Regions from separate parts of the Homo sapiens genome. Here all the other regions are linked to region 2. Evidence: fine-mapped expression QTL. A gene starts in region 2. Each other region holds a variant in brackets. All regions are shown on one strand. Distances are between the middles of the regions.

What was found. PIP is the estimated chance that this variant, and not a neighbour inherited with it, causes the effect.
Region 1: its variant is the best candidate, but not a certain one, in a credible set for the expression of LINC00900 in macrophages (Alasoo 2018, PIP 0.84).
Region 3: its variant is the best candidate, but not a certain one, in a credible set for the expression of LINC00900 in monocytes (Quach 2016, PIP 0.81).

Annotation. Positions count from the first base shown.
Region 1 is chr11:115,708,412-115,711,166 of GRCh38, reverse strand. The region is part of intron 2 of LINC02698 (long intergenic non-protein coding RNA 2698); the gene reads right to left. Among named protein-coding and RNA genes, the nearest start is that of LINC00900, 50 kb to the left of the region's middle. The variant AT/T (reference allele first, on the strand shown) is at 1,503.
Region 2 is chr11:115,758,911-115,761,665 of GRCh38, reverse strand. LINC00900 (long intergenic non-protein coding RNA 900) reads left to right here and starts at 1,466. Exons shown (of 3, transcript NR_034148.1): 1 at 1,466-1,636. The region is part of intron 2 of LINC02698 (long intergenic non-protein coding RNA 2698); the gene reads right to left. RefSeq lists an enhancer at 1,872-2,406.
Region 3 is chr11:115,715,612-115,718,366 of GRCh38, reverse strand. The region is part of intron 2 of LINC02698 (long intergenic non-protein coding RNA 2698); the gene reads right to left. Among named protein-coding and RNA genes, the nearest start is that of LINC00900, 43 kb to the left of the region's middle. The variant C/T (reference allele first, on the strand shown) is at 1,617.

The DNA.
Region 1 (2,755 bases), 50 kb after region 2:
AATCTTCTTCCCCGTGCCCCTGAGTGAATTATCACGTTATCGAGTCGGAGCTTCGGGGTGGCCAAGCCGGAGCTCCGCCGCTCCTCCTCTGATAATCCATCACCCACCGAGTGGGTTATTAAGACATTCTCTGCCTGGGCGTGTGCATCAATCTGCGGCTCAACCATCCTCCCAAGGGAGCACGCTGGAGGGGTTCCTGGAATTCCCATCCCCCAGATGTTTGAGCCACACAACCCTCGCCACTTCCTCAGCCCACCAAGGGGTCCTGTGTCTGATCACCAGTCCATCTTCATCCCCTATGTACCCCCTCCCCACCATTGCCCCCTGCACCCATCCTAGCCATTCAAGTAACAATTTCTTCCAACACTAGCCCTCCTGAGCACGCACTCATAGGAAAGCCCACCCCCCTCCGACCCCATCTTCTCCTTGTCCCTCTGCAACCAGGTCACCCCTGCTGCCCTCAGCCTCTGGGCAGAGGGGAAGATTAGATTGCACATGAATAAGCAATATTCACTTGGCGCTGACAGCCTAGAGTAAATCCCTTGAGCTGTTGTACAGGAGCAGTACAATATTTCCCATCTCCTCTTCCCTCCATCGCCTCCCCCCATCTCCTATTTCACTTAAGGGCCTTTTTTTTTTTTTTTTTTTTTTTTTTACTGGGATGTACTTGCACGTGGGTGACTATATTAGAACAACACCATCAACACACAGCATTTACAGCAAACAGATCCCTGGGAGCAGTCACCTGATTAACAATGAGGAAAGATACTCGAGGAGTGTGTTTCCTATTTTGCCTTCCCTTCTACTGGGAGGAGGAAAGAGGTCTTTTGCTTCCCACATAAGCTCCAGGCCCTGCTGGGTCACTAAGCCCACCTGTGGAAGGAAAACCCTCCCAGGGGCTTCGAAGAGCCTGCCTTTCAGAAAGATCTGGAGAAGTGAGGTACCCCTCAAGAAGGGAAGGTGACCGCCACTTTTACCTAGCTCAGGGCGGATACTCAGAAACGCTGGGCAAGTAAAATCCCGCCCCACTACCTAGCAGCTGTGTTCCCTTAGGTGAGGCACTTCATCACGCCCCTGCCTTACTTTCCTCACCTGCTAAATGGGAATTAATGCCCTTGAGTAAGATGCTGGTCACAAATGTTTAGAACCGTGCCTGACACATGCAGTCAATACTCATGAACTGTTTTTGTTCTCCTTTCATCTGCCACCTCCACTCCCCATACCAGGCCAGATTCCAACAGTTACGCCAGGAACAGCAAAAAGGGACGTTTTATTTATTTTGTTGTCTTTGACAAAGACGTGCACCCGACCCCTCTCAATGGTTCTTCCTCAGGCCTGGGAAATGCCCATTAAACTTATTTGTCTCTAGTGCATGATAAGTAAGTGATCAATCAAGAGAAGAAGGGGGCAGGAAAGAAAGGGGAAAATGAAAAGAGGAAAGAGGGGAGGAGGGGGCGAGAAAGAGAGAGGACGAAAAGTCAGGAAGGAGAGAAAAAAAAAAA[AT/T]GAGGCGAAACCGTGGAAGAGATTACCACAAAATCAGCCTGTTCAAAACAAAACTGATCCTACATCTCCTCCCCCGCCCCCACCCCACCCCGCCCAGCCCCAGCATGTCTGCCCGTGACTTCCCTGTTTCTATCAGTGGTGTTACCATTTTCCGTTGTCTGAGGCTTAAAACCTCAGGGTCATCTTCACCTCTTCCCCATTTCTTGTTCCCCTTATTCATTCACTGACTCGTCATAGTAACTCTTCATCATCTTTCTCAGGTACTTCTTTTTTTTTCATTTTCTGGCCACCCTCACTGTTGTTCAGGGCCTCATCATCTCCCATCCCCATGCATTTGGTCTTCCTGCTTCTAATCTGTGTCCCTACCACCCACTTTGCTCGATGCATCCAGACGAATCTTCTCAAAGCGCCATTCTCGTCATACGGTTTTCCGTTTCGAAAATCAACAGTGCTTTCCCTCTCCTATGAGCCCCTCACACCATCCCAGCCTCTTTCTCCACCTCGCCTCTGCACAGACCCTCTCCTCCAGTCTGACTTCTCTTCTCTTTGTTCAGGACACAGAAAGTGCATTTCCATCATGATGAATTTTGGGTAGATGCTCAACCTGCACCGTCTGACATAGTAGCCACAAGCCACAGGCGGCTACTGAGCACTTGAAATGTGCCTAGCACTACTGAGAAAGTGAAATTTTAATTTTATTTAATTTAAATTAAAAATTGAAAGCAGTGGCCGGGCACGGTGGCTCACGCCTGTAATCCCAGCACTTTGGGAGGTGGAGGCGGGAGGATCACAAGGTCAGGAGATAGATACCATCCTGGCTAACACGGTGAAACCCCGTCTCTACTAAAAAATACAAAAAAAATTAGCTGGGCGTGGTGGCGGGTGCCTGTAGTCCCAGCTACTCGGGAGGCTGAGGCAGAAGAATGGCGTGAACCCAGGAGGCGGAGCTTGCAGTGAGCTGAGATCGTGCCACTGCACACCAGCCTGGGTGACAGAGCGAGACTGTCTCAAAAAAAAAAAAAAAAAAAATTGAAAGCGGTGTAAACTATTTTTGTATTCAACACAGCTTTATTGTTTTGATAGAACCACATTTCACTTTAACCATCACATCCCATAAAATGTTATTGCTATGCTATAGTACATGTGTTGGGGAACATGTGTCATTTCTAGTATTAAAAACACATCACTGGCAATATCAGTATCAATGAATTGATTCTGTTTGAATGATTTTTTTCTATGCACTGAAGTACCA
Region 2 (2,755 bases):
AGGGTGTTTGCCACAAACATACTGGATCCTGAATCTGTGGGCAGACATCTGAGTACAGCACTTCCCCTACCAGTAAAAGGGAGGTGCTAGTGCCCTCCTAGCCCAATTAGGGCAGGCTCCGTAGCTGGGTGGGGCTGAGCTTGTAGGAAAAGGCCTACTAGGCAGTGCCCTGCAGGGCTGGGCAAGCCAGGACTGATGGCTGGGCCAGGTGAGAAAGATTTCCTGCTGTATTTGCAGACTGAATATGTGTCTGGGGCTAGGGGCTGAGCTGCTGCCAGCACCATCTGACCTCAAGGATCCCCCTAGTCAACAAGCAGCAAGAACAGGAGACTCCAGAGGCTCCCTCAGCTTTGGAGATAGCTCTGCAAACAAAACTCAGTTTTTAGGGGTTAATCCTCAGCCCCAGGAGGAGGCAGTGGGCCTCCTCTGAAGGGCAGAGTCAGCAAGTGGGCTGAGACTAAAGGAAAGGCCCAAGACTGCAGGCCTGAGATTAGTTTGGCAGCAGCTCCAAAGAGCAGCCCTTGAATCGCAGGGATTGTCTGAGCCCTCAAAAGCACTGGCTGCCTCCCACCAGCCTAGCTAATGGGGCTGAGCTGCTGGGGCCATGACCTCTGTCTACCCGGCTGATGGTCTGCTGCTCTGAATCTCACTCCCCCAGCACCCAGCAGGACCAAGGGCTCTGTCTAGCTTATGTGCATCGTGCCCTTGCATGTTTTCAGCACCTACTATGCGCGCAGCATCACACCTCCCCATCCACCTGCCTCCTGTTACTCTCACCAGCACGCTCAGTCAACCCTTGGGCTAATTAGTGATTAGGTCTACAGTAAGCATGCATGGTGGGGTGCAGAGAGTGGGGTGGCCAGCGGGTGATGAGTGAGGGGAGAAGAGAACAGGAGATAGGAGGTCATGGTCTGACCTTCTTCCAAAGCCCGGAATCCCTGAGTCTGTCTCTGGCAGCTGTGAAACAGAGGGAGCATGGGATCTGAACCGTGCCGCCATCTGGGAGGTCACACACACTCACAGCCAAACCCCCGGAAGGAAACTCGGGCTGAAATACACCGTTTGCTGAAGAGCAGGGCTGGGCACTGGTTTCTCTGCGTTCTGAATTTCTAGAAAGGGTAGGGTCTCCGTTGCCAGGCGGCGTCTGCCACCTCTTCCCACCGCGGCCCCTCCAGCCCTCCACCCCTTCCCCTGGGAGACCCCCTGTGAGGACCCTCAGCAAACTTCTGCAAAACCTGACGGGCCCTGGGTGCAGGGTGGTGTGGACGCAGATCTTTCAGGCCGAGGGGGGGGCGGCGGGAGGGTGGGCGTGGAGGTGCGAGAGGCGCGCAGCCTCCGCCTGCCCAGCTGTCTCTGCGGACCCCGCCGAGGGAGGGAGAGAAGCGCTAGGAAAAGGAAGAGGAGAAGGAGCTCGAGCGGGAGGCAAGCGAGAGGCTCTTTTGCTCCTCCCAAAGCAGGGGGCGGCTCCACTGTGCTTCTGATGACCCGGCCGCCGCCGCCGCCCTGCAACCGCTCCCCGGGACCCCTCAACGCTGACACTGATGACCCGCGGCGGGGGCGCTGGGCGCGGGGTGCGCAGGCCACTGGCCGCGGGCTCTCGGGCCCGCTCCTGCCGCCGGCTTCTGCTGCTTCCGCGGTAATGACACTCGGCGGAGCGGCCGCCATCTCTTCTGGTACTTTCACTGGAGGAGGGAAGGGTGGGGAGAGCCCTCTGTCCACCCCTGCCCTGCCCTGGCGCTGGTCCGCCACTGCCCGCTGCTCTCGCGCTGGTCCGCAGCTCAGCCGAGCAGCTCCCTTCATCTGGCCTCCCAGACCCTCACTCAGCCGCGAGAGGAGGAGCTCCGGCGACCTCGGGCCTTCCCTTAGGGTCTGCGCGGCCCTTACCCCAAACCCGCCCAAGGTAGAGGCGTGAAGGGGCCGGCGGCGATGCAGAGGCGGGAAGCGCATTGGGGAGGCGAGGCTGGAGAAGGGGACGCAGGGAGGCGGGGGGTGGACCCCCAGCATACTCCAGGAGCCGGCAGGAGCCAAACCCCAGCCCTCCACACAGGTATTCCTGCGGACCACGAGGTGCCACCCGTCCCTGGTCGCAGAAAAGACGAAGGGAAGGCCCAGCTTCCCTACCTCTACCTCCCATGCCGGGCGCCCAGCCTGCTCAACTGAACCCCAAGCCGCAGGTTAACCCTGCTCCAGCTTCTCCCCTTGGCTATGGGCAAACTCCTTTTCTCTTTCCCATTGAGAACCACCGCTCAAATTCGGAGGGCTTTCCTCCTTGGTGCTCAGAGCTCCCAAGATGGGTGATTCTCTGCCAGGGGTCCTTAGCTACCCACTTTGGACAAGGATGGACAGATGTTTTCTCAAGCTTGCCTAAAGCACAGCTTCTAAACAGATGAGCCCTCCCCACGTTCCCCGCAGATTGTCTGGCCTTCGAGGAAATAAAGATGACCGTAGCCAAGCTGCCCTGCTCCGCACAAAGGACCCTGGGCGCCCCATCCTTAACTCCCCTGCCTTATGCTTGAGATTAGCATATCCACCCAGCAACTCCTCTGCTCCAGACTTAACTTGACCACTGCAGTCCACACCGACTCTCCTATCCACCAGAACTGTGCACTTAAAATCTGCTGCACACAATCCCATACTTGCTTGAGTCTGGCTTTGTTCTCCAATAGTTTCAAATGCCTGTTTGACTCCCCCCGCCACCCCCACAGAGATAAGGTCATCACAAGCAGTAACTACTGCTTTGCTTGTTTTGATTCCC
Region 3 (2,755 bases), 43 kb after region 2:
GGACAAGGTGTTTACACGCACAGGCCACTTCTGCCTGAACTCCCAGCTGGGATGCCTTGCGACTTCCCCTTGGGCAGCTGCTGCAGCCCAGCCGCTCTGAAAAGAACTCATGAATCAGTGGGACTGTTTATAGTTTTTCCTTTTTAATTTTGAGGCAGGAGTGATTAATTTGAGCCTCGTTGAGGCAAGGGACAAATAAGTGCTGATAATGGCAAGACCTAAGAAGGGTTGAGTTCCTGCCAGGCCTGGGCCTCCCAGAGTGTCTCTGAACTGGTTGGGCCCACCTGCAGGCTTCTTCCCACACCCATCCCAAGGACCCCTTTGAGCAGAGACCTCACAACCCTGCCTGGCCAATGCATGGAGCTGGGACTGTGTCCTTCATCCCACCCTCCACCTAAACTTGAATTTCCGCTGCTGCGAGTCACCAAGGTCCTCTCTACCTGCCCCTCTTCCCATTGCCTCTGCATTCAATCCTTGGGCTGTCCTGGGCCCATCATCCAGCCTCTCGTAGCACAGGCCTGCTCTGCCTCTCAGCTGCTTGTTCCAGGCATAGCCTCCTGAACTCAGGTCCGCTCTCCTAAGAAGACTGCAGCCGAGTTGAGGGGGGCTGAAGGCGAGGGGTCAGTCAGGTGACCCAGGGTGATCCCTGCTTGGGGCTCAACTGCTTTTAATCCGCCCCCCCAGGGAAATTCCAGGTTAGGCTTTGGGCATTTGCTCTGACCTCCCCAGCTTTCTGAAACCAATCTTTTTTTTTTTTTTTTTTTTTTTTTTATGCCTTGGAGTTGTTGAGGTGTATGTGTATGTTTACCTCTCAGAATAGCAATAAAATAAACCAGGGGAGAAAAACGAAAGTCCCAGTAGCAACGGATTGGTTAGACCTCTGGCTTGACTCATTAATGAAGTACAGCTGGTCTGGCAGAAAGAGCTCCTGCTCTCTTTTGGGAACCAGCCCCTTACGTCCATCCTTTCCAAGCAAGACCTCCCTCCCAGGGCCTCCCCATCTCATCTGGAGCAGGAGCAAGATCCGGGGCCAAGCCGCTCAGCGTTCCAGAGGGCACTAAGGTACCGGCAGCCTCCTTCTGAATAGAGGTACAGCCTGGAGGATGAGGGAGGGGTGGGGACACCAACCTCTCAGCCTGTACGTGCCCCAGCAGGGGACCCCGGCCCTGCATGGGTTCCATGTCTCCTGGCTCCCAAGCAATAATCCACCCCCATGGCTTCCTAAGGAGCCGCACAATGGCTTTATTGAGCGGAGCTATAAATTTCAGCAAGGCCAACCCTGGGAGTAGGCAATTACCTTCCGAGGAGGCTCCCTCCGGACTGACTGCCTCCCAGAACAAGAGGGTCTTTCATAACCACTCAGTGCCGGCACGGGCTGAGGACGGCCCATGCACTGGCGGGTGCTGAGCATGCCCCGTGCCCCCCCATCTCATCATCCCCTACTCCCGCCGACCCTCAGACTACAGCATCAGGAAGGCAGCATGATCGAGCGCAAACACTGAGCTTTGAAGGAGACTGTTCGGATGGCTGCTTCTTTGTTTCCCCCAAGTTTTGGCCTCAGCCCAAAATCGAGTTGAGGGAAGGATGGAGAAGAATAAATAACTATATCTTGCAGG[C/T]CTTTTTAAAGTTACGACACACCAGGAGACGGGGAGACGGGGATGGGGGAGGGGAGGAGGGAAAGACCGGAGGGAGGAAGGACCTTTTCTTTCTTTACTAGGGGGAAATTGCTACATTTTCTAATAACGACTAACTTGAAAACAGCTGAACCTTGAAACTTCAAACTTCAATCAAAGTCATTCTCAGAGAAGAGTAGGTGGTTTCCAAAGGCTAGGAAATTTTTTTAAAAAAGAACAATTGGTCTGGAATTAATCAAGATATTAATATCAGAAAAGGAAGCATCGGATACAGGCTGTATCCAGGTCACTCAGCTGTGAAAAGCCCAGAGCCTCGGGCCAGGGTCTGTCCCCAGAGGACCTGGCCTCTCTCCTTCCCCTTAGAAAGGCTCCTACCTTAGTGACAAGGCCTTGAATGGGCAGAGGGTAGACTGGTGTTCAAGACTCTCCTCCCCGCAACCTAGCCACCCTCGCCTCTTCTCCGAAGTGGCAGGCCAGCAGCATGGGCGGGGATGCCTGTCCCCAGGGGCAGGGACCCAGGAGCTGGCATTGACTGACAGCTCCAACCTACAAAGGGGTTTGTTTGATGGGAAACCAACGCTTGGGCTCCCCATGGCTGTCAAGCCACTCCCCAACTCTCCACTCATTTAAACTAAAAACCCAAGTATATTTATTCCCTAGTAGACCTGATACACTCCAGTACTCCTGCCAACTTGCTTTGCAACATCGTACACAGCAGATCAATGTGTGCAATTTAGAACAGAGAAATGAAGACTTCAGTGAAGAGGAGGGGTGGGATGGGGGCTGGCAAAGGGGGGCCTTGGCTCCTGCTCACTGCTCCCCATTCTCTCCTAAAATGCTTGCTTTCCCCTAGCAGCCCATGGTGCCGATCTTTGCACCTTTAAAAGAGAAGAAGGTCTTTTAGCCATGGACACAAAAGAATAACTCTTCCAACCTTAGCCAGGCAAGTAACTAGCACCTATTTTTCCATGTGCCTCACGTACAGAACATGACCATGGCCATAAGTTCACATAAAATGCCATCTGTATGTCCTGCCCTGAAGGGTATATCTAGAGGGCCCCAGCCCTCCCCACACCCTCAAGGAGTTCTCAATTCCTCAGCAGACATAAGGAGACTTAGGG